Linked DNA regions of Homo sapiens. The protein of the gene in region 1 purifies or fractionates together with the protein of each later gene. This does not show direct contact. Each region holds a gene or a part of one and is shown in the gene's direction. Other genes may lie near its edges.

The links.
Region 2: the proteins of L3MBTL2 (region 1) and CIZ1 purify together in Homo sapiens (co-immunoprecipitation; 3 studies listed by BioGRID and IntAct, with this or other methods). This does not show direct contact.
Region 3: the proteins of L3MBTL2 (region 1) and TFDP1 purify together in Homo sapiens (affinity purification with mass spectrometry; 5 studies listed by BioGRID and IntAct, with this or other methods). This does not show direct contact.
Region 4: the proteins of L3MBTL2 (region 1) and YAF2 purify together in Homo sapiens (affinity purification with mass spectrometry; 6 studies listed by BioGRID and IntAct, with this or other methods). This does not show direct contact.

Annotation. Positions count from the first base shown.
Region 1 is NC_000022.11:41,208,288-41,215,319, forward strand, and holds part of L3MBTL2 (lethal(3)malignant brain tumor-like protein 2), read left to right. Parts: intron 1-834; exon of another isoform or gene 835-1,408; coding exon 1,409-1,646; exon of another isoform or gene 1,647-1,664; intron 1,665-5,342; exon of another isoform or gene 5,343-5,605; coding exon 5,606-5,739; exon of another isoform or gene 5,740-6,416; intron 6,417-7,032. UniProt on the Homo sapiens protein: Putative Polycomb group (PcG) protein. PcG proteins maintain the transcriptionally repressive state of genes, probably via a modification of chromatin, rendering it heritably changed in its expressibility.
Region 2 is NC_000009.12:128,181,573-128,188,572, reverse strand, and holds part of CIZ1 (cip1-interacting zinc finger protein), read left to right. Parts: intron 1-638; coding exon 639-710; intron 711-2,796; coding exon 2,797-3,026; intron 3,027-7,000. UniProt on the Homo sapiens protein: May regulate the subcellular localization of CIP/WAF1.
Region 3 is NC_000013.11:113,580,226-113,587,779, forward strand, and holds the start of TFDP1 (transcription factor Dp-1), read left to right. Parts: upstream 1-4,527; 5' UTR 4,528-4,663; exon of another isoform or gene 4,664-5,452; intron 5,453-5,548; 5' UTR 5,549-5,612; coding exon 5,613-5,624; intron 5,625-7,554. UniProt on the Homo sapiens protein: Can stimulate E2F-dependent transcription.
Region 4 is NC_000012.12:42,228,220-42,235,251, reverse strand, and holds part of YAF2 (YY1-associated factor 2), read left to right. Parts: exon of another isoform or gene 1-4,030; intron 4,031-7,032. UniProt on the Homo sapiens protein: Binds to MYC and inhibits MYC-mediated transactivation. Also binds to MYCN and enhances MYCN-dependent transcriptional activation. Increases calpain 2-mediated proteolysis of YY1 in vitro.

The DNA of each region.
Region 1 (7,032 bases):
CCTGGCTAATTTTTTTTTCTTTTGTAGAGATGGGGTGTGGCTGTGTTGCCAAGGCTGGTCTCAAACTCCTGGGTTCAAGCAATCCACCTGCCTCAGCCTCCCAAAGTGCTGGGATTACAGATGTGAACCACCGTACCCAGGCTCTTCACACGTTTTCTGTTACATGCTGGGTAGATTCATATACATTATCTCATTTGCATCTCACGAGTCAAATATTTTTATTTTATAGATGAGAAAGTTGAAGCCCACAGAAGTTAAATGACTTGCCCAAGGCCCTATAGCTAGTTAGGCTCAGAGCTGAATCTAGCGCTGTAGTACACACCAAGATGCCACAGTTATCTGTGTGTCATCTGCCTCTCCCATCCTCTTTGGAGCAGTCTAGGTCCCAAATTAACTTTTCTGTGACTTAAATTGTTTCTGAGTTGAGATCATTTTGATGTATATTGAACGGGGAAGAATTTTTGTTTTTCTTTTTGAGACAGCATCTCACTCCATTACCAGGCTGGAGTGCAGTGGCGCGATCTTAGCTCGCTGCAACCTCCACCTCCCGGGTTCAAGCAATTCTCTGCCTCAGCTTCCCAAGTACCTGGGATTACAGGCACCCGCCACCACACCCAGCCAATTTTTGTATTTTTAGTAGAGACGGGGTTTCACCATCTTGGCCAGGTTGGTCTTGAACTCCTGACTTCGTGATCCACCCACCTTGGCCTCGGAAAGTGCTGGGATTACAGGTGTGGGCCACTGTGCCTGGCTAAGAATTAATTTCTAATATATCTTCTACCCCAGAAAGTCTTTGTGAAGTACCTTAGGATATTTCACTTTTTTTTTTTTTTTGAGATGGAGTCTTGCTCTGTCACGCAGACTGGAGTGCAGTGGCACGATCTTGGCCCACTACAACCTTTGCCTCCTGGGTTCAAGCAATTCTCTGCCCCAGCCTCCCAAGTAGCTGGACTACAGGTGCCCGCCACCACGCCTGGCTAATTTTTTCTTGTATTTTTTTGTAGAGACAGGGTTTCACCCTCTTGGCCAGGCTGGTCTCGAACTCCTGACCTCAGGTGATCTGCCAGCCTCGGCCTCCCAAAGTGCTAGGATTACAGGCATGAGCCACCGCACCTGGCCCACATTGTTATACAGTATTCTATTTGAACCATGTTAAAATATCATCATTTGTAAATCCACAGAGGAGCCTGGTGAATTCCTAACACATATTTTCTGTCTTGTTAAGCTGTTGAATTGCATCATGGTGGAGAAATGTGTAAATAGAAGTAATGATCTTGGTGTTTGTAAAAGGGGTATTTGAAAGGTTCCCGAAAGTGTGAGGGGGCTGATAGCAGATCTGCAGCTTCTCCCCCCGTGCACTAAAGCCAATCATAATTCTTTCTACCTGGTTTGTGTCATCCTCCATTAGGAGACCCCATCTTCAGAACCAATGGAGGAAGAGGAAGATGACGACTTGGAGCTGTTTGGTGGCTATGATAGTTTCCGGAGTTATAACAGCAGTGTGGGCAGTGAGAGCAGCTCCTATCTGGAGGAGTCAAGTGAAGCAGAAAATGAGGATCGGGAAGCAGGGGAACTGCCGACCTCCCCGCTGCATTTGCTCAGCCCTGGGACTCCTCGCTCCTTGGATGGCAGTGGTTCTGAGCCAGGTGCCTTCAGAGTGTCCCCTGAGGATGGAGAGGAGATAGAAGATTATAGAGGAAGAGGGGGGTGGATATAGGCTATATGGGCAGAGCCATCCAGATGTAAAAGGCTATTAACTCTGATTTCTAAGGGATCAGATGTGTAAGGACCTGTAAGGGAGACAGAAGCACCCCAAGTAGCCACTGTGTTAACTTCCTTTGCTGAAGTCTAATTTCTTTTTTTTTTTTTTTTTTTTTTTGAGACTTGAGTGTCGCCCTGTTGCTCAGGATGGAGTACAGTGGCATGATCTCGGCTCACTGCAACTTCCACCTCCTGAGTTCAAGTGATTCTCATGCCTCAGCCTTCCAAGTAGCTGGGACTACAGGCACCCACCACCACATCCAGCTAACTTTTGTATTTTTTTGTTTGTTTGTTTGTTTGAGACGGAGTCTCGCTCTGTTGCCTAGGCTGGAGTGCAGTGGCGCGATCTCGGCTCACTGCAAGCTCTGCCTCCCGGGTTCACACCATTCTCCTGCCTCAGCCTCCTGAGTAGCTGGGACTACAGGCGCCCGCCATGACGCCCGGCTAATTTTTTGTATTTTTAGGAGAGACAGGGTTTCACCACGTTAGCCAGGATGGTCTCGATCTCCTGACCTCGTGATCCACCCGCCTCGGCCTCCCAAAGTGCTGGGATTACAGGCGTGTGCCACCGCGCCAGCCTAACTTTTGTATTTTTAGTAGAGGCGGGGTTTCACCATGTCGGCCAGGCTGGTCTCAAACTCCTGAACTCAGGTGATCCACCCACCTCAGCTTCCCAAAGTGCTGGGATTACAGGAGTGAGCCACTGTGCCCGGCCCTAGTCTAATTTCAAATTGTGACTTCACTCATTCTTTCATATAACTAATGTGTATTCAGCACAGATTAGATGCCACTGAGTAGCATGGTGCTGCTTTTTTGTATAAGTATACCATGGATTTCCAACGTGGATGTTGAGAAGATAGGAAACCTAAAGTGTTTTGGTTACTTTCTGAGAAGGGACAAATAACTTGTGGTTTGGAAGTCAGGGTGGGAGTGGGAAGGTAATACACGATAAAGTGACCCTGGGTAGGAGGACTGGGTTGGGGGCGGGCAGATGAGAATCCCTATGGATCATCTGGAAGCCAGTTGACTTTGGAAATGTGATGCTTGGACAGCTGCTGAACCCCTGTGTCAGGGCCTCCCATGTGTGGGCTGCCTGTGAAGAGAGGCAGGCTGGATAGTCTGTGAGGACACTGCCATCCTTTAGATCCCAAACTTTTTTTGTTTTATTTTGAGGCAGGGTCTCACTCTGTCACCCTGGCTGCAGTGCAGTGGTGTGAAAATGGCTCACTGCAGCCTCGACCTCCTGGGCTCAGGCAATCCTTCCACCTCAGCCTCCTGAGTAGCTGAGACTACAGGTGCACGCCACCATGCCTGGCTAATTTTTGTATTTTTTTTTTGTAGAGACAGGGGTTTTGCCCTGTTACCCAGGCTGGTCTTGAACTCCCAAGCTCAAGTGATCCCCCACCTCAGCCTCCCAAAGTGCTAGGATTACAGGCATGAGCCACCGCACCCAGCCCCAAACTCGTTAGAAGAGTAATCTAATACTCTTTGCAGTTGAATCTTATTTCCTTTTTTTTTTTTTTTTTGAGACGGAGTCTTGCTCTGTCACCCAGGCTGGAATGCAGTGACATGATCTTGGCTCACTGCAAGTTCCGCCTCCCAGGTTCAAGCCATTCTCCTGCCTCAGCCTCCCCAGCAGCTGGGACTACAGGCGCCTGCCACCACACCCGGCTAATTTTTTTTGTATTTTAGTAGAGACGGGGTTTCACCATGTTAGCCAGGATGGTCTCGATCTCCTGACCTTGTGATCTGCCCTCCTCGGCCTCCAAAAATGCTGGGATTACAGGCGTGAGCCACCGCACCCGGCCTTTTTTTTTTTTTTTTTTTTTTTTTGAAACAGAGTCTCGCTGTGTCACCCAGGCCGGAACGCAGTGGCACGATCTTGGCTCACTGCAAGCTCCGCCTCCCGGGTTCACGCCATTCTCCTGCCTCAGCCTCCCAAGTAGCTGGGACTACAGGCGCCCTCCGCCATGCCCGGCTAATTTTTTGTATTTTTTAGTAGAGACGGGGTTTCACCGTGTTAGCCAGGATGGTCTCAATCTCCTGACTACGTGATCCGCCCGCCTCAGCCTCCCAAAGTGCTGGGATTGCAGGCGTGAGCCACCGCTCCCGGCCTTACTTCCTTTCTATTTATATTGTCTTCTTTTCATCCCTTGCCTTTTATCTTTCTCCCTTCTATCCTCTTCCAGCCCTTCTCTTAGAATCTTAGGATTTAGAACTAGAAGGAACCATTAGAGACCACTTAGACCAGGGGTTCTGCACATTAGAATCATCTAGGGGAGCTTTTAACAAACTACAGGTACCAGTATCCCGTCACAGACCAATTCATTAGAATTTTAGGTTCAGGCTTTTTTTTTTTTTTTTTTGAGACAGCGTTTCACTCTTGTTGCCCAGGCTGGAGTGCAGTGGTGCCATCTCAGCTCACTGCAACCTCCGCCTCCCAGGTTGAAGGGATTCTCCTGCCCCAGCCTCCGGAGTAGCTGGGATTATAGACGCCCACCACCGCGCCCGGCCATCTCAGGCATTTTTAAAAGCTCCCCAGGTGGGTCTAATAGTGAAGTCACGGGCCAGGCATGGTGGCTCACGCCTGTAATCCCAGCACTTTGGGAGGCCGAGGCGGGAGGATCACAAGGTCAGGAGTTCAAGACCAGCCTGCTCAACATGGCGAAACCCCGTCTCTACTAAAGATATAAAAAATTAGCCAGGCGTGGTGGCACATGCCTGTAGTCCCAGCTACTCAAGAGGCTGAGGCAGGAGAATCCCTTGAACCCGGGAGTCGAAGGTTGCAATGAGCCAAGATGGCGCCACTGCACTCCATCCTGGGCAACAAGAGCAAAACTCCATCTCAAAAAAAAAAAAAAGTGAAGTCACGATTAAAACACTGATCTAGCTGGGCGCATTGGCTCACGCCTGTAATCCCAACACTTTGGGAGGCCGACACGGCGGATCACAAGGTCAGGAGATTGAGACCATCCTGGCTAACATGGTGAAACCCCGTCTCTACTAAAAACACAAAAAAATTAGCTGGGTGTGGTGGCAGTGCCTGTAGTCCCAGCTACTCGGGAGGCTGATGCAGGAGAATGGCGTGAACCCGGGAGGCAGAGCTTGCAGTGAGCCAAGATTGCGCCAGTGTACTACTCCAGGCTGGGTGACAGAGCAAGGCTCCGTCTCAAAAATAAATAAATAAAACACTGATCTAGTTCAGTCCCTTTACTATATAGATGAGAAAATAGAGCCACAGAGGTTAAGTGACTTTGGCACTTTTTCTTCCTATAAATTTTTTCGCTTTTTTTTGAGACAGTGTCTTACTTTGTTGCCCAGGCTAGAGGTACAGTGGTGCAGTCATGGCTCACTGCAGCCTCAGCCTCCTGGGCTCAGGCAGTTTCCCCCCGCCAAATCACACCTGGCCTTTTTTTTTTTTTTTTGGGCAACAAGGTCTTGCTATGTTGCCCAGGATGGTCTCAAATTCTTGCCCTCAAGCAATCCTCCCTCCTTGGCCTCCCAAACTGCCGGGATTACAGACAGGAGCTACCATGCCTAGTTTCTTCTCACTTTCCTCTGACAAACTTTTCAACACTCACCTGTTCCCCCAGTCGTCCTCATGGATTTCCATTAGCCCCTCTGTTGACATCTGTAGCCAAGGGAGGCCAAGCAGCAGCACTTCATTCAGGTAGATTCAGGATATACACACCAGTACCTCCCATTCCTCCTCTTATTCCATTAGCCTTTGTGGGGGCAGGGGCTCACCTGGTTAATGCAGTGCCCCAGGTTTTGAAGGGCCCATCACTTTGTTTGCTTTGAGGTGGTCATATCGGGTGAGTCATGTGCTAAGTTCTCTTCCCAGCTGTCTGTGAGATGTGTGGTATCGTGGGTACAAGGGAAGCCTTCTTCTCCAAGACCAAGAGGTTCTGCAGCGTCTCCTGCTCCAGGAGCTACTCCTCCAACTCCAAGAAAGCCAGTATCTTGGCTAGGTTACAGGTGAGAGGCAATCACTTGGATCCTTCCCGGTGCCTTTGGTGCTGAGACAGGAACCACCAAGTGACTGAAGGCCAGGGCCAGGAAAGTTTGAAAAGGTCCTTGCTTGTGGCCAGCTGGTATTTATTATGTTCTCAAACTTCAGAGGACAGTAGAATCCATTTGTGGAGCTTTTTAAATTATAGGTTCCTGAAGCTACGCTCCATTACCTACCATCATCCCCCAGAGTCTGGTGTATTCAGTACATTTTAAACAAGAACTATGGGGGAGTCTGACACCCTTGGTCTTCACCCCACACTTTTATAAATCCTTTCAAAGGAAGTTGGGAAACAGGCCCAAGGTTCACCAGCCACGGTGGCTTCAGGAAGACCATGCCTCCTCGGACTCCATGTCACAGGCAGCTACCTAGAAAGTCTTGCCAATTTTCTAAATTACTGATATTTATAGAATCTTTAGAGATGGAAAGATTCTTGGATGTGGTGTTGAACCCACACATTTATTGATAAGTATACTGAGGTCCAAGGAGGTAGAATGACATACCTAGTGTGGCTCTGTAGGAGGAGAATGGCGGAATTGAGGCTGGAACCTCATCTCAGGGGCCTCATCTTACCTTGTTTCCCAGTAGCTGGGACCAGCATCTGCAACACTGCTTCCCAAATTTGCCTGCATGTTGGGATCACCTGGAAAGTTTAAAAATTATTGATGCTGGTCGGGCACGGTGGCTCACGCCTGTAATCCCAGCACTTTGGGAGACCGAGGCGGGCGGATCACGAGGTCAGGAGATCGAGACCATCCCAGCCAACATGATGAAACCCCGTCTCTACTAAAAATACAAAAATTAGCCAGGCGTGGTGTTGTACGCCTGTAGTCCCAGTTACTCGGGAGGCTGAGGCAGGAGAATCGCTTGAACTTGGGAGGTGGAGGTTGCAGTGAGCCGAGATCGTGCCACTGCACTCCAGCCTGGGGGGAAAATATTATGTAAAATATATTGATGCTTGGGTCCTACTCCGAAAGGTTCTGATTTAACTGGGATGGTGTGTAGCCTGGACAGAGATTGGAAGAGCTCCCAGGTGATCCTAATGTGCAGCGAAGTTTGAGCACCACCGATGTTTATTAGAAATTGCTGTGTCCCAGATCCTTCTGCTTACTGCTTCATACACTGTCGCCTTTGTGAGACAATTACCATTGTTTCCCCATTTTGTAGATTTTACTTAAGGCACCGAAAGATCCCTCTCTTCCGAGAGCTAAGAATAATATTGGTAATATTAATAGCTATGGTTTGGGAGTACTTGCTAA
Region 2 (7,000 bases), on another chromosome or scaffold:
GGGAGGCCAAGACAGGAGATTTGCTTGAGGCCAGGAGTTCAAGATCAGCCTGGGCAACTTAGCAAGACCCTTTCTCAAAAACAAACAAAAGAATAAAAGTCACACTCTTTAAAGTGGAAAAAAAGGTTAAAAATGGGGATAGGAAAACCCACAGTGTCATCTGTTGACTCACTCACCACCTGAAGAAAACCACCAGTCAGCATTTTTGTCTCTTTCATCCCATTTTTTTTCTAGGCACAGACTTGGGGATTTGTATCTGATGATTGTGATTGATATAAGTCCCAGGCTGTACCCTGTTTCTTTGTCACTGAATAGAATGGCATGATCGTTTACCATAGGATTTGATCATCTGTGTTAAGATTATTTTTAATAGCTGTTTAATATTGCACCAGAGGGCTATGCCTTTGTTTATCTAAACCTTCTTAGCTGTTTGGCTCTTTCCTTTTTTTTTTTTTGCTTTTTTCTTTCTTTTGCTTTTTTTAATTTTTTGTTTTGTTTTGTTTTGGGTTTTTTTTTTTTTTTTGCTGTTTTAAGTAACCCTGGGATGAATATGTTGTTTGAGATTGTTTTCTCACTGAGTCAGGGGGGATGGATGTTTTATGGCTCTTGATAAGTATTGCCGAATTGCTTTCCTAAAGGACTGGACCAGTTTGCAATGCCACCAGCCACGTATGACACTGCCGGTCTCACCATGCCCACAGCAACACTGGGTATTATATGCTTTTTATATATATATATAAATGTATATATACATATAATTAAGTTGGTTGGCAAAAAGAAGCTATGTCATGAATGTTTTACATTTCTTAGAGTGCTAGTGCAATTGAACATTTTATATTTGTCTGTTGAACATTTTATTTCTTTTTGTGACTTGTCCATGTCCTTTGTTCATTTTTCTTTTAGGTTGTTTCATCTTTTGTCTTATTGTTTTTAAGAGCTGGTTGGCTCTCTGCACATATGTGTATATGTATTTGTTTCAAGTTAATGTTAATTGAACATTTACTATGTACCAGGCACATTTGTATATCTCATTGAATACTCATGAAACATTGTGAGGCAAGTGCTATTATTATCCCCTTTTTACAGATCAGGAAATCAGGCTAAGCAGGGGGAAGTGATTTGTTCAAGGTCACAGAGCTTGCACTGTAGAGTCTGGATTTGAACCCAGCGCTCACAGCACGCCATGCTTTAACCTTTAACCCCTGTGCTTCCCATCCCAGCACTGGGGCAAGAGTTCCAACTGCCTTTCATCCCTTAAATACTTCCCAAGCTCTGGGCTTCCCCTGAGGTGCAGAGCTGAGTTAGATGATGTGAAGCAGAAAGCAGATAAGGAGCTGGATGTGGTGGCTCACGCCTGTAATCCCAGCACTTTGGTAGGCCAAGGTGGGCGGATCACCCTGAGGTCAGGAGTTTGAGACCAGCCTGGCCAACATGGTGAAACCCTGTCTCTACTAAAAATACAAAAATTAGCCAGGTGTGGTGGCGGGCGTCTGTAGTCCCAGCTAGTCGGGAGGCTGAGGCAGGAGAATCACTTGAACCCAGGAGGCAGAGGTTGCAGTGAGCCAAGATCGCACCACTGCACTCCAGACTGGGCAACAGAGCAAGACTCCCTCTCAAAAAAAAAAAAAAAAAAGCAGACAAGGAAAGTATGAAGTATGTAGCTCGTCCTAGAATAATTGGAAGCTGGGGCCTTTGGGGACACAGTCTGCAAAGGTCTCTTGGAGGAGAGATACCTATAGGGAGGTCTGAAGGGTGTCAGTGGGTAGAACAGCCCAGGCAGAGGGAACAGCATATTCAAAGGCCCTGAGGCAGGATGTCTGAAGGACGGCACAGGGACATGTGACTGGAATATAGTGGGGACATGTGGGGAGAATGGCAAGAAAGGAGGCTGGAAAGGTGGGAAGGGCCAGACCATGCAGTGAGGAATGGCCTTTGCTACCCAACAGCAGGGAGCTATGGAAGTGTTTGGGCAGAAGGGAGAGATGAACTCAGAATATGGTTTGCGAAAGATCGCTGTTTGCTGCCATCTTGTGCAAAAGCTGTGGCTGGAATTCAGGCAAAGGATCAAGTGGTTTTGGGAGGAGGCAGGGAGTGGGAGTGGGGATGGAGCGGGAAAGTCAGATTGGGAAGAGGCATAGGAGACAGAGTTGATAGTATGTGGGGATGGCTTGCATGGAATAGGGCAAAGAGAGGGAGGAATGAGGAATACCCCAGAATCCTGGCTGGGGCGGTAGGTGGATGGCAGTGTCCCTCGTAGCGACCCTGGGCAAGCTGCACCTCCACTCTGTCTCCGTTTTGTCATCGGTAGAGATAACACCCACCCTGAAACCTGCTGGGCCGAGGGACTGAGGCAGTGTGAGGAATGGGCTTAGCACAGTGCCTGACTCATAGTTGCTGCTGATAAAGGGTAGCTGGTAGGGGTGGGGGTGGGTGTCTTGTTATCCCAGGGACCAGCCCTCCTGCTGGTTCTCCCTATGGGCTGTGCTAAGTCTCTCACCTACTCTATGGCAGACTCTAAAGCATGCCTGAGGGTGAGCAGAGTTTTGGGGAATGCTAAAGGCAACACCCCCACCCCTAGCTGGGGCAGAAAAGAGCCCTAAAGCTTCCTTCACCATCAGTGCCCAAGATGGGGCTGAGCCTCAGCTCTCATCTCTTCCCTTTGGCTGCCCTTGGGTGGGAAGGTCCCTTTCAATTATCTGGGATGTTCCCATGATGCTCTGGGGCACTGATGCCTGACCCTACCTTCTGCCACCCGACCACATTGTGACCCCTCTTCTCCTGTCTTCTTGCCTGCAGGTAACCTCCGAGGCTATGGCATGGCATCCCCAGGCCTCGCAGCCCCCAGCCTCACACCCCCACAACTGGCCACTCCAAATTTGCAACAGTTCTTTCCCCAGGCCACTCGCCAGTCCTTGCTGGGACCTCCTCCTGTTGGGGTCCCCATGAACCCTTCCCAGTTCAACCTTTCAGGACGGAACCCCCAGAAACAGGCCCGGACCTCCTCCTCTACCACCCCCAATCGAAAGGTGAGTGGTAGGTGGGGATGGGAGTGGGCGGGAGGGGACCCTGGGTGTCAGCCCCAGTGCCACCTGCTCTGGCTCAGTCTGGGCCTTCGGACAGGTCACACTCCCTTTATGCCTCAGTTTCCTCATCTGTAAAATGAGGGGGGCGGGAATGGACTTGTTTAGCGTTTCCCAAACTTCAAATATTCTTTTATCAACGAAGGGATTTTTGCCATGCCCAAACACTACCAGTACTATCATTTACTTAATGTTTCTTTTTTGTTTGTTTTTTGAGATGAAGTTTCGCTCTTATTGCCCAGGCTGAAGTACAATGGCGCGATCTCAGCTCACTGCAACCTCCGTCTCCCAGGTTCAAGCGATTCTCCTGCCTCAGCCTCCAGAGTAGCTGGGATTACAGGCATGCGCCACCACGCCCAGCTAATTTTGTATTTTTAGTAAAGACGGGGTTTCTCCATGTTGGTCAGGCTGGTCTCAAACTCCTGACCTCAGGTGATCCGCCCGCCTCAGCCTCCCAAAGTGCTGGGATTACAGGCGTGAGCCACTGCGCCCAGCTTAATATTTCTTTTTAAATTATTGGTGTGGCCAAGCGTGGGGGCTCACACCTGTAATCCCAGTACTTTAGGAGGCCATGGTGGGTGGATCACCTGAGGTCAGAGGTTCGAAACCAGCCTGGCCAATATGGCAAAACCCCCTTCTCTACTAAAAATACAAAAAAGTAGCCGGGCATGGTGGTGCATGCCTGTAATCCTGGCTACTCAGGAGGCTGAGGCAGGAGAATCGCTTGAACCCAGGAGGCAGAGCTTGCAGTGAGCCAAGATTGCGCCATTGCACTCCAGCCTGGGGAACAAGAGCAAAACTCTGTCTCAAAAAATAAATAAATAAAAATAAAATTATCAGGGCATGATAGTGCATGCCTGTAATCCCAGGGACTTGGGAGGCTGAGGTGGGAGGATTGCTTGAGGCCAGGAGTTAGAGGCTGCAGTGAATTATGATCACACTACTGCACTCCAGCCTGGGTGACAAAGTGAGACCCTGTCTCAAAAAAAAAAAAAAAAAAAAATCAGCACTGCCCAGTAGAAATAAAATACAAGCCATATATGTAATTTAAAATTTTCTGGTAACCACATTATAAAGTAAAAAGAAATGGGCTAAATTAATATTACTAACTTATTTAACCCAATCCCATATGAAACTATTATCATTTCGACCTGTCATCAATATAAAAAATGAGGCATTTTACATTCCTTTTTTAAAAACTACAAAATCTTCACAATCTGGTGTGTATCTGATACTGACCTCTCAATTCAGCCCCGCCAGTTTCAGGTGCTCTCCTGAGGCTGTGGGGTGACTGTGTGGGAGAGCATGGCTTTGAATGAGTGAGCTTCCTTTCTGTTACATTTATTTGGAAAGGAAACATCATATCATAACCTGACATTCTAAAAACTATCTAAGTTAATTGCCATTCATAGAAGTATAAGAAATTGCTGGGTGCAGTGGCTCACGCCTGTAATCCCAACACTTTGGGAGGCTGAGGAGGGCAGATCATTTGAGGTCAGGAGTCCAAGACCAGCCTGGCCAACATGGTGAAACCCCGTCTCTACTAAAAATACAAAAATTAGCTGGGCCCTAGTGGCGGGTGCCTGTAATTCCAGCTACTCAGGAAGGCTGAAGTAGGAGAATCACTTGAACCTGGAAGACAGAGGCTGCAGTGAGCCAAGATCGTGCCATTGCACTCCAGCCTGGGCGACAGAGTGAGACTCCATTTCAAACAAACAAACAAACAAACAAACAAACAAACAAAAGTATAGGAAACATAACTAGGGTAGAACAATGCTATAAAATCCTAAGCTATACGCTGTTGCCGGCTATAGGTTCCAGCCCACAGCCCCCTGGCTCCTTGTGTGTTTGAGAGGTGTTTACCTTTCTCCTGGCATAAGCAGGAGATCTGCAAAGGGCTCACCCCCTCCCTAGACTGTCCTGTCCCTGAAGGTCTCCGCAGCTCCTGCTCACACCCTGCTTCTGGGTGTATTCCAGCGCAGGGGCAATGCCCCCTTTGCTGGCCACTCCAGGGCGGGCCACTTCTGGAGGTAAGGCATTTTCCTTCAGCGAGGGGCCCCGCCTCCAGCCTTCCAACGGGCCTGTCATCACAGATCTGGTCTAGTGTCTAACCCGCCCTGCCCTCATTTTTTTACGTATGGAAAAACCCAGGCTTAGAGATTGGGGTGCGGTTGGTCCTGCGCCCCACAGCTGTCTAGGTGGACCCAGAGCCCAGGCCTCCTGACTCTCAGGCTGGTGCCTGTTTCGTGCAGGGTGACAGCTAGGTAGTTTCTGAAGGGCAGAGTATGGATGTGTCCAGATTACCATTCCCTGCTCAGTGCTCATTCCTTGGGCTTAGCAGGAGGGAGGGAGGGAGGCTGCAGGCTTCTGGTGGCCTCCTGGGGTGCCTTGGACTGGCCAGAGAGAGCTGTGTGTTCATTTAGCAGACATCTGGAAGCCCCTGCAGGGGACTCCCTGGTGCAGATGATACATCTGGCCTGGCCCTCCCTGAGGTCTTGGACAGGAATGGGGAGGGTGGTGAGAGATATTAATGCAAATAATGCTCCAACCAATTAATTAAGACTGTGGAGGCCGGGTGCAATGACTCATGCCTGTAATCCCAGCACTATGGAAGGCCAAGGCAGGAGGATCAGTTGAGCCCAGGAGTTCGAGACTAGCCTAGGAAACACAGTGAGACCCTGGCTCTATGGAAGAAAAAAAAAAAGAATACAGAAATGCCACGAAAAGGAAGTAGGTTCTGGACCCATTCTGGAGTCTGGAGGGCTTCCTGCAAGAAGTGCTTCTGAGGCTCTAAGTGAAGGCCTAGGGGCAGGGACGGGCCTGGGGCTTGACCAGAGAGAAGGCCAAGGTAGATAAGCAGAGAGGGCTGGTTGCGGGGGCATGGCCGGGGCAGGTAGTGTGCAGAGGCCCGTTTGTGCAGGGAAGGGGTGGGTGTGCAGAGTGTTTTCAGGCTTGGCGTAAGGCGTGCACCAGGGCTGCAGGAAGCCATGGGAGGGCTTTAAGCCTGGAAGAAGAGACATGATCAGCTTTGCATTTTAGAAGGACCCCACTGGGCCAGGTGTGGTGGCTCACGCCTGTAATCCCAGCACTTTGGGAGGCCGAGGCGGGCAGATCATCTGAGGTCAGGAGTTTGAGACCTGTAGGGACCAGCCCCACAGGGTCGGTGCGTCTCTCCCTGTGTGCGGCGACGAGAGAGTGTAGAAATAAAGACACAAGACAGAGATAAGAGAAAAGGCAGCTGGGCCCGGGGGACCACTACCACCAATGCGCAGAGACTGGTAGTGGCCCCGAATGTCGGGCTGCGCTGTTATTTATTGGATACAAGGCAGAAGGGGCAGGGTAAAGAATGTGAGTCACCTCCAATGATAGGTAAGGTCACGTGGGTCACGTGTCCACTGGACAGGGGGCCCTTCCCTGCCTGGCAGCCGAGGCAGAGAGGGAGAGGAGACAAAGAGAAAGACAGCTTACGCCATTATTTCTGCATATCAGGGACTATTAGTATTTTCACTAATTGACTACTACTATCTGGAAGGCAGAGCCAGGTGTACAGGATGGAACATGAAGGCAGACTAGGAGCGTGACCACTGAAGCACAGCATCACAGGGAGACGGTTAGGCCTCCTGATAACTGCGGGCAAGCCTGACTGATGTCAGGCCCTCCACAAGAGGTGGAGGAGCAGAGTCTTCTCTAAACTCCCTCGGGGAAAGGGAGACCCCCCCCCCCCCCCCGCCTTTCCTGGTCTGCTAAGTAGCGGGTGTTGTTCCTTGACGCCTTTTGCTACTGCTGGACCATGATCCGCCTGGTAACGGGCGTCTTCCCAGACGCTGGCGTCACCGCTAGACCAAGGAGCCCTCTGGTGGCCCTGCCCAGGCATAACAGAAGGCTCACGCTCTTGTCTTCTGGTCACTTCTCACTATGTC
Region 3 (7,554 bases), on another chromosome or scaffold:
AAGAGCATTTTCCAAAACTGATCTGTTTCTGTTTGTGCACACACACACACACACACTCAGACACACCTGTGTACTCAGCTGGTCATAGTCTCTCTCAATTGTCACCTTCTCCATGAAGTGTTGCCAACTGTGTGCACGGAGAAATCATTGTTCTGTGCTTCCATACCCCCCTTCCCAATCGTGAATATGAGCTTGTCCCACCAGGTCACATCCATTATAATTGCAGGTGCATCTGTCTCTCCAGTTTGACTCTGGGCAGTCTCTTATTAATCTGCGTAATATCAGCACCCAGAGTTGTGTCTGGCACTTAGTAGGAGCTCAGAAATGCTTGCGGAGGGAGGAATGCAGGGAAGGCAAGGGTTTCGAAACTGTGGTTTCGTCTTCTTATTAACAAACTATATTTTTATCCACGTATTTCTCAGTTAAAGGAACGTGCCCATCACAGAGGCTAAGATCACTTATCCACAGTGATGTGGTGCCCCATCATCTCAGCATTGGTGTCAGTGGATGCTAAGATCCTTCTGTGAATCCGTAAGAGGAGTGGGCAGGCAGCACAAAAATGCCCAAAGGCACTCAATTGCATGTGAGGCCACATTTCTCAAACAAAATTACTCTGTAGGCTCCTGGTGCTGGCTTCACCTTGGGCTGAGGACAAATGGGTGCTATGGGGAAAGGAGATGACGCCAGGAGAACACAGATCTTTCAACCTGAAATCATGGGACTCCACAGGACATCACCTGACATCATCTTAGCCAGAGCGAAGCAAGCCGCAGGGCAGGCACACTTCAGGAGAATCTCGGAGTCAATGGCCAAGGTACCAAGGGGTCTCTCATCACAAAAGCCAGAAAAGAATCCAGATCAAAGCAAGGGAACATGTCTAAGGAGTAGGCAAAATTGGTTGATTCGGGTAAATTCAACTTTTATAAATCTGGTGATATGATCCTCTAGAATTTGTCAGATCCAAGGGGTGATTTTGAAAGAACTGTGGTTTCAGACTATAAATGAATGCGACAGTCTTTAAGACAGAAATAATATTATAGCATGCTAATGTGGCAGGATCACAACTGACTTTCCTTCCAAGAGGGAGAACTTGGGATTTGACCGGGAATTTTAAAAAGGAGCAATAACGCAGTAGGAGAGAGACAAAAAATGTCTTTGTGTCTGGGGGTGGTGGGGGGACTTAGGAGTGTTGATCTGTGAGAGCAAAGGAGAGCCACACGGGACAGACCTGGAGGTTGGGAAAGCGCACAGATTTTCCTGTGTTTTATGATACACTCAAATACACAGAGCAAAGTTTTCTAGAGATGCCTTTATTGACATTTTACTAAAGATCAAGAAAATGCCATTTACGCATATCCAGGAATATTATTTTTTAACTTTCCCCATAAATTCCATGAGTCCCTGCCTCCTGCTTGTCCTCCCACTGAAGGCCTCTTGCCATAGTGATGGAAGAAGGCAGAAAATAGGAGATGGTTGGAGAAAAGACCAATGTCATCGAGGAGGGAAACAAAAGACAATCTGGATATGTAATCAGCAGATTTAGAATTAAAACAGGGTTAGAAAATTCTCTCTCTCTGAAAGAGAGGACAGTTTAATGGGGGTGTGGAATTGGTGGGGAGAGTTTGCACCATGCCTGGAGACTCTGGAGCAGACACACACACAGCTTTTGCGAGATGAAGACTTTTCCTGGGAAGGACACGTTCACTTCTAGTAAAACACAGCACAGGCCATTTCCATGTAATATTTGGGACGGTAGCTGAATCTGGTGCCCACATGCACAAAACAAGACAGTATCTGGCCCCAACCATAGGGCTGAACCCAGCCTCTGGCATGTGGTGCAAGTCAACACCTGAACGAGTGCATCATTCAAAGAACCCTATCTCCTAAACAGCCCAGGCTCCAGAGATACAGGGAGGCCAAAGGCTTAGATAAATTCCGAGGGTTATGGGCTTATTTAGGAAGTTTGCATTTCAGCAACCCAATCGAGAGACTGCAAGGCAAGGCAGTGGCTAAAAATATTTGGATCATCAACCAAAATTTTAGAGGGAATTCTGTTAACTTTTGTTAAGAGAAACGAGGGCTTTCTGTGGAACATGTGGCTATGGAGAGGAAAAAGGGAGTAACTTTTTGCCCTTTTCCTAAGCCACACAGAGCACCGTGAGCATTCATTGCCGCAGTGCCTCGTGCGCGTTCGGAGTATCTCAGTACAGTGATTTTTGTGCAGAAACTTCTTTGAATAATATTAGTTATCAGCCATATAAACATTGTTGAATTATCAGAATCCTGAATTTGTGGGGAAGACGTTTAAGACCCCAATTTTGGACCCTACGTGTGTATCCTCCTAACTGGAGCCCCCAGGTCTCAGGGAGAAGTCCCCAGAGGCTGGGAGGGTGTCACTGTTGCCATCAGGGCTCAAATACTGACATTTAGGAACACATAAAGAATCCCTGTGAAACAGAAGGAACGGACCTAGGAAGATAGGGCCATTTGAGGAACATCAGTGTTCTCTAAGTATCTATTTGTGTGAACCAGCTCGCAGAAAGTGAGCGTTTCTGGTAGTCTTCAAAGAAGAAACGGGTGCTAACTTGTAAGCAGTTTAAGCCAAGTGACCAGAGCTTTAGGGGGTGCGGCGTTGCCTGAGGGGCAGGAGTGGCCAAAATCAGCATAAAACGTGCAAAGTGGGCTGTCATGTAATAATACACCGCACAGGCAGAGAGGCCTTTGGTCAGCTCCTCAAGTCCTCTGTAGATGTTCCTTACCCTCGGCGCGCACCAGCCTCTGCCGCCTGCTGTGGCCCTGAACTTCGGACTCTTCTCTGGCCTAGCCCGCCCTTGGCTGGGGTGCTCGGGCCTGGCCCTAGCGGCGGGGCCCTCCAGGGTGGATTAAGTCTCCAAGACTCCGGGACCACCAGGCTCACCATGCAATGAAACTGTTTCTGGAGTTTTCCTGTCCCTGCTTTCCCTCCCGAGTCCCGGGCCAGGCTGCGTCCGGTGGGCACCGAGGACGCCCAGAATTGTTGGGAATCTGGGCGGAGGCCCGTCGTGGGCTTGGAGGCCACCGGGTCCAGCAGAGGCAGAGGCCTCTGTGCCACGCACGCACACACACCTGCTCTCCTCCGTGTGTCCACATACACACGTCTATGCACACACCTGCTCTCCATACATGCACAGCCCCACACACAGTCGGCCCTTTATGTGCACACACACTCGTGCACACAAGCGGCCCCCTCTCCTCCGTGCATACAGGCGCACACACAGCTGGCTCTCCTCTTTGAGCACACACACTCAAGCACACACCCGGCCCCGCTCTTCCAAGTGCACACACACTCCTGCACACACTAGTCCCTGCTCCCCCCCCCACACTCGCGCACACAGCCGGCACTCTCTGCTCCCTGCACACAAACACACATCCTGACATACCCGGCCCCCTACCTGCTGCCCCATGTGCACACACACTAGTGCACACACCAGTCCCCGCTCCCTCACATGCACACACACTAGTGCACACACCAGTCCCCGCTCCCTCACATGCACACACACTAGTGCACACACCAGTCCCCGCTCCCTCACATGCACACACACGAGTGCACACACCAGTCCCCGCTCCCTCACATGCACACACTAGTGCACACACCAGTCCCCGCTCCCTCACATGCACACACTAGTGCACACACCAGTCCCCGCTCCCTCACATGCACACACTAGTGCACACACCAGTCCCCGCTCCCTCACATGCACACACACGAGTGCACACACCAGTCCCCGCTCCCTCACATGCACACACACGAGTGCACACACCAGTCCCCGCTCCCTCACATGCACACACACGAGTGCACACACCAGTCCCCGCTCCCTCACATGCACACACACGAGTGCACACACCAGTCCCCGCTCCCTCACATGCACACACACGAGTGCACACACCAGTCCCCGCTCCCTCACATGCACACACACTAGTGCACACACCAGTCCCCGCTCCCTCACGTGCACATGCACTAGTGCACACACTAGTCCCTGCTCCCCCACGTGCACACACACTCTTGCACACAGCCGGCCCCGCTCCCCCACGTGCACACACCAGCTCCCGCTCCCCCACATGCACACACACTCGTGCACATAGCCGGCCCCGCTCCCCCATGTGCACACACACTCTTGCACACAGCCGGCCACCTCTCTCTCCGGACACACACAGTCAGAGGCGCGCACAAACACAGTCCCTTGGCCGCCGAGCGCACGCCGCGCGCGCGCACTGCCCGTCCCGGCGCAGGCCCCAGCTACATCTCCGCACGCGCACGCGCACACACGGACACGCGCGCACAGCCCCTCCCCGCTCTCCCAGGGCGCGCAGCACTGGCGGGAGGAGCGGGAGACCGAGGAGCAGCAGAAGAGGAGGAGGAGGGCGCCGAAGGCGCGAAAAGGCGCGCAGGCGCGCTGCGCGGAGCGGGCCCGCCGCCGCCCACGTCACCGCGCCGCGCGCACGTCACGCCGGCCCGACGCTCGGCCAGGGTGAGCCCCGCGTCCCGGCGCCACTCGGCCCAGGGCAGGGACCCCGCCACGGCCGGGACCGCCCGGCCCGGCCCCAGCCCGCGCCTCTCCGCGCCGCCCCGCGCTCCGCACCGCGCCCTCTCCGCGTCCCCGCCCGCGCGGCCGGACCGGGCAGCCAGGTGCGGGTGGGCAGGGGATGCCGCGGGAGCCGCGGGCGGGAGCCGGGGGTGCGGGCGGGACCCCCGGCCACCCCATCCCTTGCCCCGGCCGCGTGTAGGCGCCGCGCGGCCCCGACCCGCGCCCTCCCGCGCCCTGCGCGCTCCTGTGCCTCGGGGACCCCGCGCGCTCGGCGCTGGTAGGGGCTCCCCAGGTGACCGCGGGGCGGGGGTCCCGGGCCCGGCCCTCCCGGCCGACAGCAGCGTCCGCGCCCCACGCTGGAGGTGGGGCCGGGGCCGGGGCCGGGGCTGGGGCCAGGGTCGGCCGGAGCGCGCAGGGCGGGGGAGGGGAGGCCGCCCCACGGCGGCCCGCGGGGACCCGGTTCCGGCGCGCGCGGGAGGCGCCTCGTGCGGAGGCGGCCCGAGGCCTAGTGACAGGCGCGCGGCGCGGACCCCGGAAGCCCACCTGTCAGAGTTACCGGTCAGCCGGGCGGGCGCCGCCGGGGTCTGGGGTGGACGCCGCGAGCCTGCACGTTGCGCCGGGACCCCGGGGCTGTGCCCAGGTGGGTGGTGGGGCACCCCCCTGCAGCGGCGGGAGGGAGGCGCTGCGCCCTGGCTCCTGGGGCTCGGCCCCACCCTCGGCCGCTGGGCGGGCCGTCGGGGACCTGGGGGTAGTGGTGGTGACCCTGCGGGCCCGCGGGCCACTTTTCCGCAGGGGGCATTTCCGTCTGGCGAGGCGACTGAAAATCCTGAGTGTGGGAGTCGGTTTGGCCAGCTCCGCTCTCAGGATGGAGGGTGCCTTTGGGAAGGAAGGTCCGCGTTTCCTTTGAGATGTGTTATTTTTTAAACTTCGTTTTTCATTCTTACTTATTTCTTGTTTTTCCTTACTTTTTTTTTTTTTTTTACCAGAAAAATCATTTTTCTTCTCTGGGAAGGTGAACATTTGTAGCATTGATTTCCCGGATCTGGTAACATGGCAAAAGATGTAAGTATGTTTGCTTCATGCTGCACACGAATGTTTGCCTCGCACTAAATTCTTTGTAGTTCTCTGCCTTTATTTCAGAATGACAACACATAAGCTACAGTAGTGTTTATTTTCAGACTTTTAAAGCGTCTGAAGCGGGATGAAGGTGAAAGATGGAAGGATCTGATCTCTGAAGCTGCGGTCACCACCCACAAGTTGTGGCCTTGGATACCACACTGCAGTTGGGTGGTGATGGGGTGGTGCCTTCTGACTTTTTCCTTATCTTTACCGACTGTGTTAATTGATAATTTTAAATAAACGCCTTAATTAAATTGAGGTGGAGGGTGTTGCAGCACCGCAGCGAATCCTGCATTTCTTGGGGGGCTTCCACATGAGACGCTGGACGGGGGCCAGGCTCAGGGCTCAGGCTGTAGCCACCTGCTGGCACCTGTCTTCCTACAGAGGAAGTTAATTCCACTTGGGTGGACCAAGAGCTAAGGACTTGTTTTGGCCACTTTTTTTCTCAGAAGGATGAGATTTCCTGATTTATGAAATCTGGTAAAAAATGCTACTTAGCCTGCTTTGCAGTTGTCATGAAACTATAGAATATTTTGAAAATTTTTTAAAGCCAGAAATTTAGTCTATTTTATTGGTGTGCGGTTCTTTACCGTGCTTGGTTATGTCAGTCACTGAAACACCAGCTGGATTCTTTAGTGTTTCCCACCGTGCATCGTTTTGTAACTGAGTGAAAGGTGCTGTTGATGTGTTTACCTACTTACCGCACAGAGTTGGAAAGAGTCCGCACATGCTGCCTCTGCCTGAGATACATCTGTAGCGAAAATGCGTCCAGAGTGTGGAGCCCTCTCCGTTGGCGCAGAGGTTTCAGTGGTCCCTGCGAGGCCTTTTGGGGTGTCTGCCCTCCCTGACCTGCGACCAGGCATGTCACACGGCATCCCTGCCTTCAAGCACTGGGGTCCCCTTTAGAGAGGGTGTGTGAGCACCCAGGTGGACCCAGTGTGAGTTTTTGAAGTCATATCTGGCTGTGCTGCGAGACTACTTTTATCCTCTCCACTGTGCTTGTCCGTACCATGCCCTGACCTCGTGCGGGCATGCACTCAGAATGCCAGATGTGGGCATGTGCTCAGCGCGCAAGCCATGTTCATTACATCTCCTCATGGTGAGGAGCTGGACCCAGGGCCTCGGTTAGAGCACGCTTCTGGTGTTGTGTGGTTTCCTGTGTGGTTTCCTCAGATGGTTCTCAAACACGCTTTGATACATAATGGATGGTGTTTTCGGGGCCCTCTTTCATTCCCCCGTGATTTCACTGGCACTGTCTGTGAGCAGCATGTAGTGTGAGGCTGGGGGTGGGGGGCGTGTGGAAAGGTGGTCCGGCTCTGCAGGACCCTGAATGCTCCATCCAGTGTGGGCACCTGAGACGCAGCATTTGTCAGGAACTGCATAGGCACAGGGGCTGGGGGCTCACCTTGCACTCAGGGGTTGTGATCTGAGTTGGGGGTTGGCGCTGGGAGGAGAGTAGGATTCTGCAGCTGGTGAGGCCTTCCCTGCTCAAAGCCTGGGAGTGGTCAGGAGTGCTGGGTCTGGATGGAAAGTGAGGTTGTGAACAAGTCAAGGAATTTGATGTTTTCGCTAGCTCTTTTTTTTTTTTTTTTTTTTGAGACAGAGTCTCACTCTGTCTCCCAAGCTGGAGTGCAGTGACGCGATCTTGGCTCACTGCAACCTCTGTCTCCTGGGTTTAAGCAATCCTCTCGCCTCAGCCTCCCGAGAAGCTAGGATTACAGGCATGTGCCACCATGCCTGGCAAATTTTTTTGTATTTTTAGTAGAGATGGGGTTTCACCATGTTGCCCAGGCTGGGCTCGAGCTCCTGACCTCAACAATCCACCCGCCTTACAGGCGTGAGCCACCGCGCCCGGCCTAGCTAACTCTTTTAA
Region 4 (7,032 bases), on another chromosome or scaffold:
AGGTTGGCAAGTACTAAAGCCAAGACTGGATAGCTGCAGAGCAGAAGGATGCAGTTTGCTAATGATTTGTTTGTGTGACGCACAGATGGGATTTGAATCCTTTGGGTCAGACTGACCTTTGAACTGATTCTGCCTCATTGCCAAATGTTAGGCCAAGTCTAAGCCATTCTAGACATTTGAAAAACTTTTTTCTTTTTAGACCTGCAGAGAAGATTGAGTCCTTGTTCTACCTTTGAAGTCTTCTTTTTTTCTTTTTTCTTTTTTGAGATAAGATCTCATTCTGTTGCCCAGGCTGGGTTGCAGTGGCATCATCCAGGCTCACTGCAGCCTCGAACTCCCAGGTTCAAGGAATCCTCCCACCTCAGCCTCCCAAGTAGCTGAAACTACAGATGCACACCACCATGTGTGGCTAATTTTCTTATTTTTTGTAGAGATGGGGGATCTCTATGTTGCCTAGGCTAGTCTCAAACTCTTGAGCTCAAGTGATCCTCCTACCTTGGCCTCCCAAAGAACTGGGATTATAGGAATGAGCCACCATTCGGCCCCTTTAAAGTCTTTATTGGCAATATAATTTTTTTTCTTTAAATAATATTAAGTTCAAATTCTTTATGCAACAGAAGCCCATTTCCTTTGGCTATATCCATGGTAGGTCATGTCTTTCTAGAGAACGAAGTTACATTCATGGCATGTATTTCAAAATAAAATGATTTGTTGTAGCTTCAGTTCCTCAAGTTTTAATTTTATTTTAGATTTTGGGGTACATGTGCATGTTTGTTACTTGGGTATATTGCAGAGTGGTGGGATTGGGATTCCAGTGTACCCATTACCCAAATGGTGAACGTTATACCCAACAGGTCATTTTTCAGCCCCTCACTCCAAAATTTTTTACATTGTGCTTTTGTGAGAGAAACAGTAGTAAATGTCAAACTGACAGGAAATTTTTTAAAAGGAAACAAAATGCCACGGTGACACATTATTTTCAAGATGCTGCACAGTCTTTATATCTGAAGTTTCTTTTCTTTCTTTTCTTTTCTTTTCTTTTCTTTTCTTTTCTTTTCTCTTTTTTTTTTTGAGGCAGAATTTGAGACAGTCTTGCTCTGTCGCCCAGGCTGGAGTACAGTGGCGTGACCTCGGCTCACTGCAACCTCCACCTCCCAGGTTCAAGCAATTCTCATGCCTCAGCCTCTGTGGTAGCTGGGATTACAGGTGCCCGCCACCACACCAGGCTAATTTTTGTATTTTTAGTAGAGATGGGGTTTCACTATGCTGGCCAGGCTGGTCTCAAACTCCTGACCTCAGGTGATCCGTCTGCGTCGGCTTCCCAAAGTGCTGGGATTACAGGAGTGAGACACTGTGCCCAGCCTATCTGAAGATTCTTATAAGGCAAGAAATGTCCCAAATATAAATGCAAGAAACTTTAGGAAATTAAGGATCATTCTTGGCTGGCCCAGTGGCCCACACCTGTAAGCCCAGCACCTTGGGAGGCTGAGACAGGAGGATTTCTTGAGGCCAGGAGTTTGAGACCAACCTGGGCAACACAGTGAGATCTCGTCTCTACTAAAAATTAAAAAAATTAGCTGGGTGTGGTGGTGCATGCCTGTGGTCCCAGCTACTCAGGAGGCTGAAGTGGGAGGATCCCTTGAGCCCCAGAGTTCGAGGTTGCAGTGAGCTGTGATCATACCACTGCACTCCAGCCTGGGCAACAGAGTGAGACCTTGTCTCAAAAAAACAAAATTCTGAGTCATCAGAGAAAATGAAATATTAAATATTAAGGATAGTCTGTATGAGGGTGATAATCAATGTGTGATGATTAATTTAAGACTGGTGTCTTATTGGTACTTCATCTAGTAGTGGACAGTTACTTAATATTGCTTAATTCAGATAGCAAATATTTAGAAATGAAAATGATAGAATTATTGGTTTGGGTTTCAAACTGTGGTCTAAATGGTTCATACCAGGCTTTCAAATGTAACAGGTAATGTTACATTTTGTTAGAGGATATTATAACAGTCCTTTAGGTTTCTCATAGGTGTTATTTTAGAGAGCTATAAAAAAGATTTCACATAGTAGAAAGAGTGCTAGATGTTACACTAGTATGATTTTGGTAACCTGGGTTCATATCTCATTTCATATCAACCATTTCAATATTCAGCATTCAGCAAATGTTTATTGAGCATCTTATTTAAGGGCTGAGTTGGATACTAGACATACAGTGGTGAGCAAAATGGATTTTTTTGTTTCTTTAAAATTTTACAGTTTTGCAAATTAGAACCGCTTTAACTGTACCAAGCTCTATATGTGAGGTTTAGTGTTAGTAGATCTTTCCTTTATGTGTAGGCTGAAGAGGTGGAACTTCTTCATTAAAAATATATGTTGTTTATAACTGAACACAGTATTATTATTATGGTTAGGTAAAAAGAGTGAGTTATTTCAGCTTCTTTTAAAAGTAAGCTATAAAATCCACATTCTGAAAGAAGCTTAAACCAACTATCATCTGGTAGAAATCTTTTCAGCATCGTTGTTTTCTTGTCATACTTGCTTTATGTCTTCAAATTTGAGGTTTGGCACTGATTCTTCTAGACTTTTGGTGTAGGAATGGGAGAAAAAAATTGAGGACCATCTACATAAGTCCTTTTTAAAGAAATGCATGGTTCCTGAGCCGCCTCCTGTCTATCTGAGGAGCCTTTCTAGCAACCATTTAGTTGTTCAGAGACTCCTTATTCTAGGAGATTTCTTACTTGTTTGTTTTTTGTCCTGTAAGAGGACTCACACTGGTTAATTGTATATGGGTAAATTTTACAAGTGATTATTAGTGTTTGTGTAGTCTGGATATCAGAGTGGTTTTCAAAGTGTAGTCTGAGGGACACTGAGAGTCCCTGAGATCTTTTTAGTTGAAGCTTTCTATGAGGTTCACACTGTTTTTATAATAATTTGAAGATGTTATTTGCCTTTTTCACTGTGATGGTGCAGAGGCAGTGATGGGTAAAACTGCCAGCACCTTAGCATGAATCAAAGCAGTGGCACCAAATTGCTATCTTCATTGTAATATTCACCACCATGTACATGCATGCAGTAAGAATAATGTCAGTTTGAATTAAGAATATCCTTGAAGCAGAAAAATTTACTAATTTTATTACATCTCATATTTTTAAAAATATTCTGTCTGACCAAATGGGAACTACACATAAAGCACTTCTACTGTATACCAAAGTACAGTGGTTAAGGGAAAGCACATGTGTAGTTTGTCTTGCAAGCAGAGCTAGTCTTTTTGTCATAGAGCATCATTTTTACTTGAAAGACTACCTGAAATACCATAGTTATTCAGACTTGGATATTTAGCATATATTTTCTTGAAAATGAATATATTCAAAAAATATATCACTTCAAGGAAAACACTTGATACTATATGTTGCCAGTGATAATCATTCAAGTGAAAATTAGAATTTTTGAAAATTTGTAGCAACAATGAGCTTTAGAGTTTCTGTGTATAAAGACTTTTCTGAGAAGATTAGTGGTGGTATCAATGAATATAATTTCTGATATTTCACCATGAAATGTGTCAGCATTTGGAAGCTACGCATAACTCAGCAAACAAATGGTTCCTAGTTACCGATGTATGATTTTACAAAACTGTAATGGGTAATCCATCAAAGTACAAAATACCAACAGATTTTAAGGGAACACTGAAAACTTCATTGATGTGGTTTCAGATTTCATATTGCAACTAACCTTTGAGAAACAACTGTGTTTTTATGTAGTATCAAAGAATAACACCTATAGTTATCTGAAAATGCTATTCAACTACTTACCTCTTTTCAACTGTATATCTGTGAGAGTCCAGATTTTCTTAATATTTTTGGACCAAAACAACATATTGCAACAAATTGAATGCTGAGATAGATGTGACAATCCAGGTGTCTTCTACTAACCAGATGTTAGAGGTTTGCAAAAATATACGATGCCACTCTTCATACAAAATATCTTTGTTTTGGAAAATAATAAGTTTTTAAAATAAAAATATGTCATTTAATATGTGATGTATTTATTTTTTAAATGAACTAATATATTTAGATTTTTATCAGTTTTTATTTCTAATATAGTAAACATTGATAGATGACCCACATTAAGAAAAACAAAAAACAAAAACTCTTAAATTTTAAGAGTGTAAATGATCCTAAGACCAAAAAGTTTGTGAACTGCTGGTCTAGAGTTTATTGGCTTGGGTTTCTACATGCAATGGCTTTACTTCAGCAGGTATTCTTTTTATTTCCTTTATAGTGTGAGGCCTGATAACTAATATCCTAGTTGTTTAACTCAGTGGCCCAATCTCACTCATCTGTTGATGTCGCCTCCAAAGTATTTGATGTTCTTGGCCCTTTTTAAATTGAAACTCTACTTCCTTCATGTCTCTAAGACTCCTTTTTCATAGATTTCTGTGTATATCTCTGAAACCCATTTCTGCCTCCCCAAACTTGGCATCTGTATATTCTTTACTTTGTATGTGGCATAAACTCCTTTCTGGAACCTCAGCTAGAAACTGTCATTGTCTCAGCTTTGATTCTAATTTGTAGTCCTCCTTCATGTCCTTTCTCTGGATTGTCTCTTAAATCTATCCTTTTTCCTTTTATGTAGTTACAGTTCAGAAGCCCATATCACTTCTGTCATGAACTATTGGACAAATTGGTCTCTCCTTTGGAATGCTACTAACATGATCTTCATTATCTTTTTTGAAACCTATGTGATTATGTTGGTCCCTGTATATTTAAAAAAAAAATTGAGTCCTATTAGTGGCTGCTGAATAAAGGCTGAGATCCTTAGGATAGTGTTCAAGGCCATAATAATAATCTATCCCTAAACTACCTTCCTAGCTTCATTTCCTGCTGCTTATCCCAATCCTGTGCTGTGTCAGCACTGAATTATTTTTATCATATGGTACTTTTTCTTTCTCTTTCTTTCTTTCTTCTCTTTCTTCTCTTTCTTCTCTTTCTTTTCTTTCTTGAAGGAGTCTTGCTCTGTCGCCAGGCTGGAGTGCAGTAGCGCGATCTTGGCTCACTGCAATCTCCGCCTCCCAGATTTGAGCGATTCTCCTGCCTCAGCCTCCTGAGTAGCTGGGATTACAGACGTGTGCCACCATACCTAGCTAATTTTTTTATTTTTAGTAGAGACAGGGTTTCACCATGTTGGCCAGGATGGTCTCCATCTCCTGACCTCGTGATCCGCCTGCCTCAGCCTCCCAAAATGCTGTGATTGCAGGCGTAAGCCACCATATGGTACTTTTCAAAGAAGCCCTCTAGGATTACCATCCCTCCACCCCTTGGTATCATATTGATTCTATGTATGTAGAGTCAGTCATGCACTCCATAATGACATTTTTGGTGAGTGGGGGACCACATATACAGTCCCATAAAATGATACTATATTTTTACTCTACTTTTTCTATGTTTAGATACAAATACTTACCATGGTGTTACAATTACCTGCAACATTCAGTATAGTAACATCCTGTACACCTGTAGCTTCAGAGCAATAGGCTCTACCATATAGCCTAGGTATGTAGTAGGCTGTACCATCTAGGTTTGTATAAATACATTCTATGATGTTCTGACAATGAAATCACCTAACGATGCATTTTTCAGAACATATCCGTCATTAAATGATGCATGGCTGTATGTATATGTAATTATTCCTGGAGAATAAATATATTGTAGTATAATTGTCTAGACACTTATCTGCCCTACAGGGCAGAGACCGTCTTATTCACTTTGGTATTCCCAGAAGCTAATAAAATACCTGAAGTATTGTAGATATTTAAATGTTTTTTTTTTTTTTTAATTTATTTTTTTATTGATAATTCTTGGGTGTTTCTCACAGAGGGGGATTTGGCAGGGTCATGGGACAATAGTGGAGGGAAGGTCAGCAGATAAACAAGTGAACAAAGGTCTCTGGTTTTCCTAGGCAGAGGACCCTGCGGCCTTCCGCAGTGTTTGTGTCCCTGATTACTTGAGATTAGGGATTGGTGATGACTCTTAACGAGCATGCTGCCTTCAAGCATCTGTTTAACAAAGCACATCTTGCACCGCCCTTAATCCATTTAACCCTGAGTGGACACAGCACATGTTTCAGAGAGCACAGGGTTGGGGGTAAGGTCACAGATCAACAGGATCCCAAGGCAGAGGAATTTTTCTTAGTGCAGAACAAAATGAAAAGTCTCCCATGTCTACTTCTTTCTACACAGACACGGCAACCATCCGATTTCTCAATCTTTTCCCCACCTTTCCCGCCTTTCTATTCCACAAAGCCGCCATTGTCATCATGGCCCGTTCTCAATGAGCTGTTGGGCACACCTCCCAGACGGGGTGGTGGCCGGGCAGAGGGGCTCCTCACTTCCCAGTAGGGGTGGCCGGGCAGAGGCGCCCCTCACCTCCCGGACGGGGCGGCTGGCCGGGCGGGGGGCTGACCCCCCAACCTCCCTCCCGGACGGGGCGGCTGGCCGGGCAGAGGGGCTCCTCACTTCCCAGTAGGGGCGGCCGGGCAGAGGCGCCCCTCACCTCCCGGACGGGGCGGCTGGCCGGGCAGGGGGGCTGACCCCCCCCCCACCTCCCTCCCGGACGGGGCGGCTGGCCGGGCGGGGGGCTGACACCCCCACCTCCCTCCCTGACGGGGCGGCTGGCCGGGCAGAGGGGCTCCTCACTTCCCAGTAGGGGCGGCCGGGCAGAGGCACCCCTCACCTCCCGGACGGGGCGGCTGGCCAGGCGGGGGGGCTGACCCCCCCCCCCCACCTCCCTCCCGGACGGGGCGGCTGGCCAGGCGGGGGGCTGACCCCCCCACCTCCCTCCCGGACGGGGCGGCTGGCCGGGCAGAGAGGCTCCTCACTTCCCAGTAGGGGCGGCCGGGCAGAGGCGCCCCTCACCTCCCGGATGGGGTGGCTGGCCGGGCAGGGGGGCTGACCCCCCCCCACCTCCCTCCCGGACGGGGCGGCTGGCGCGGGCGGGGGGCCGACACCCCCACCTCCCTCCAGGACGGGGCGGCTGG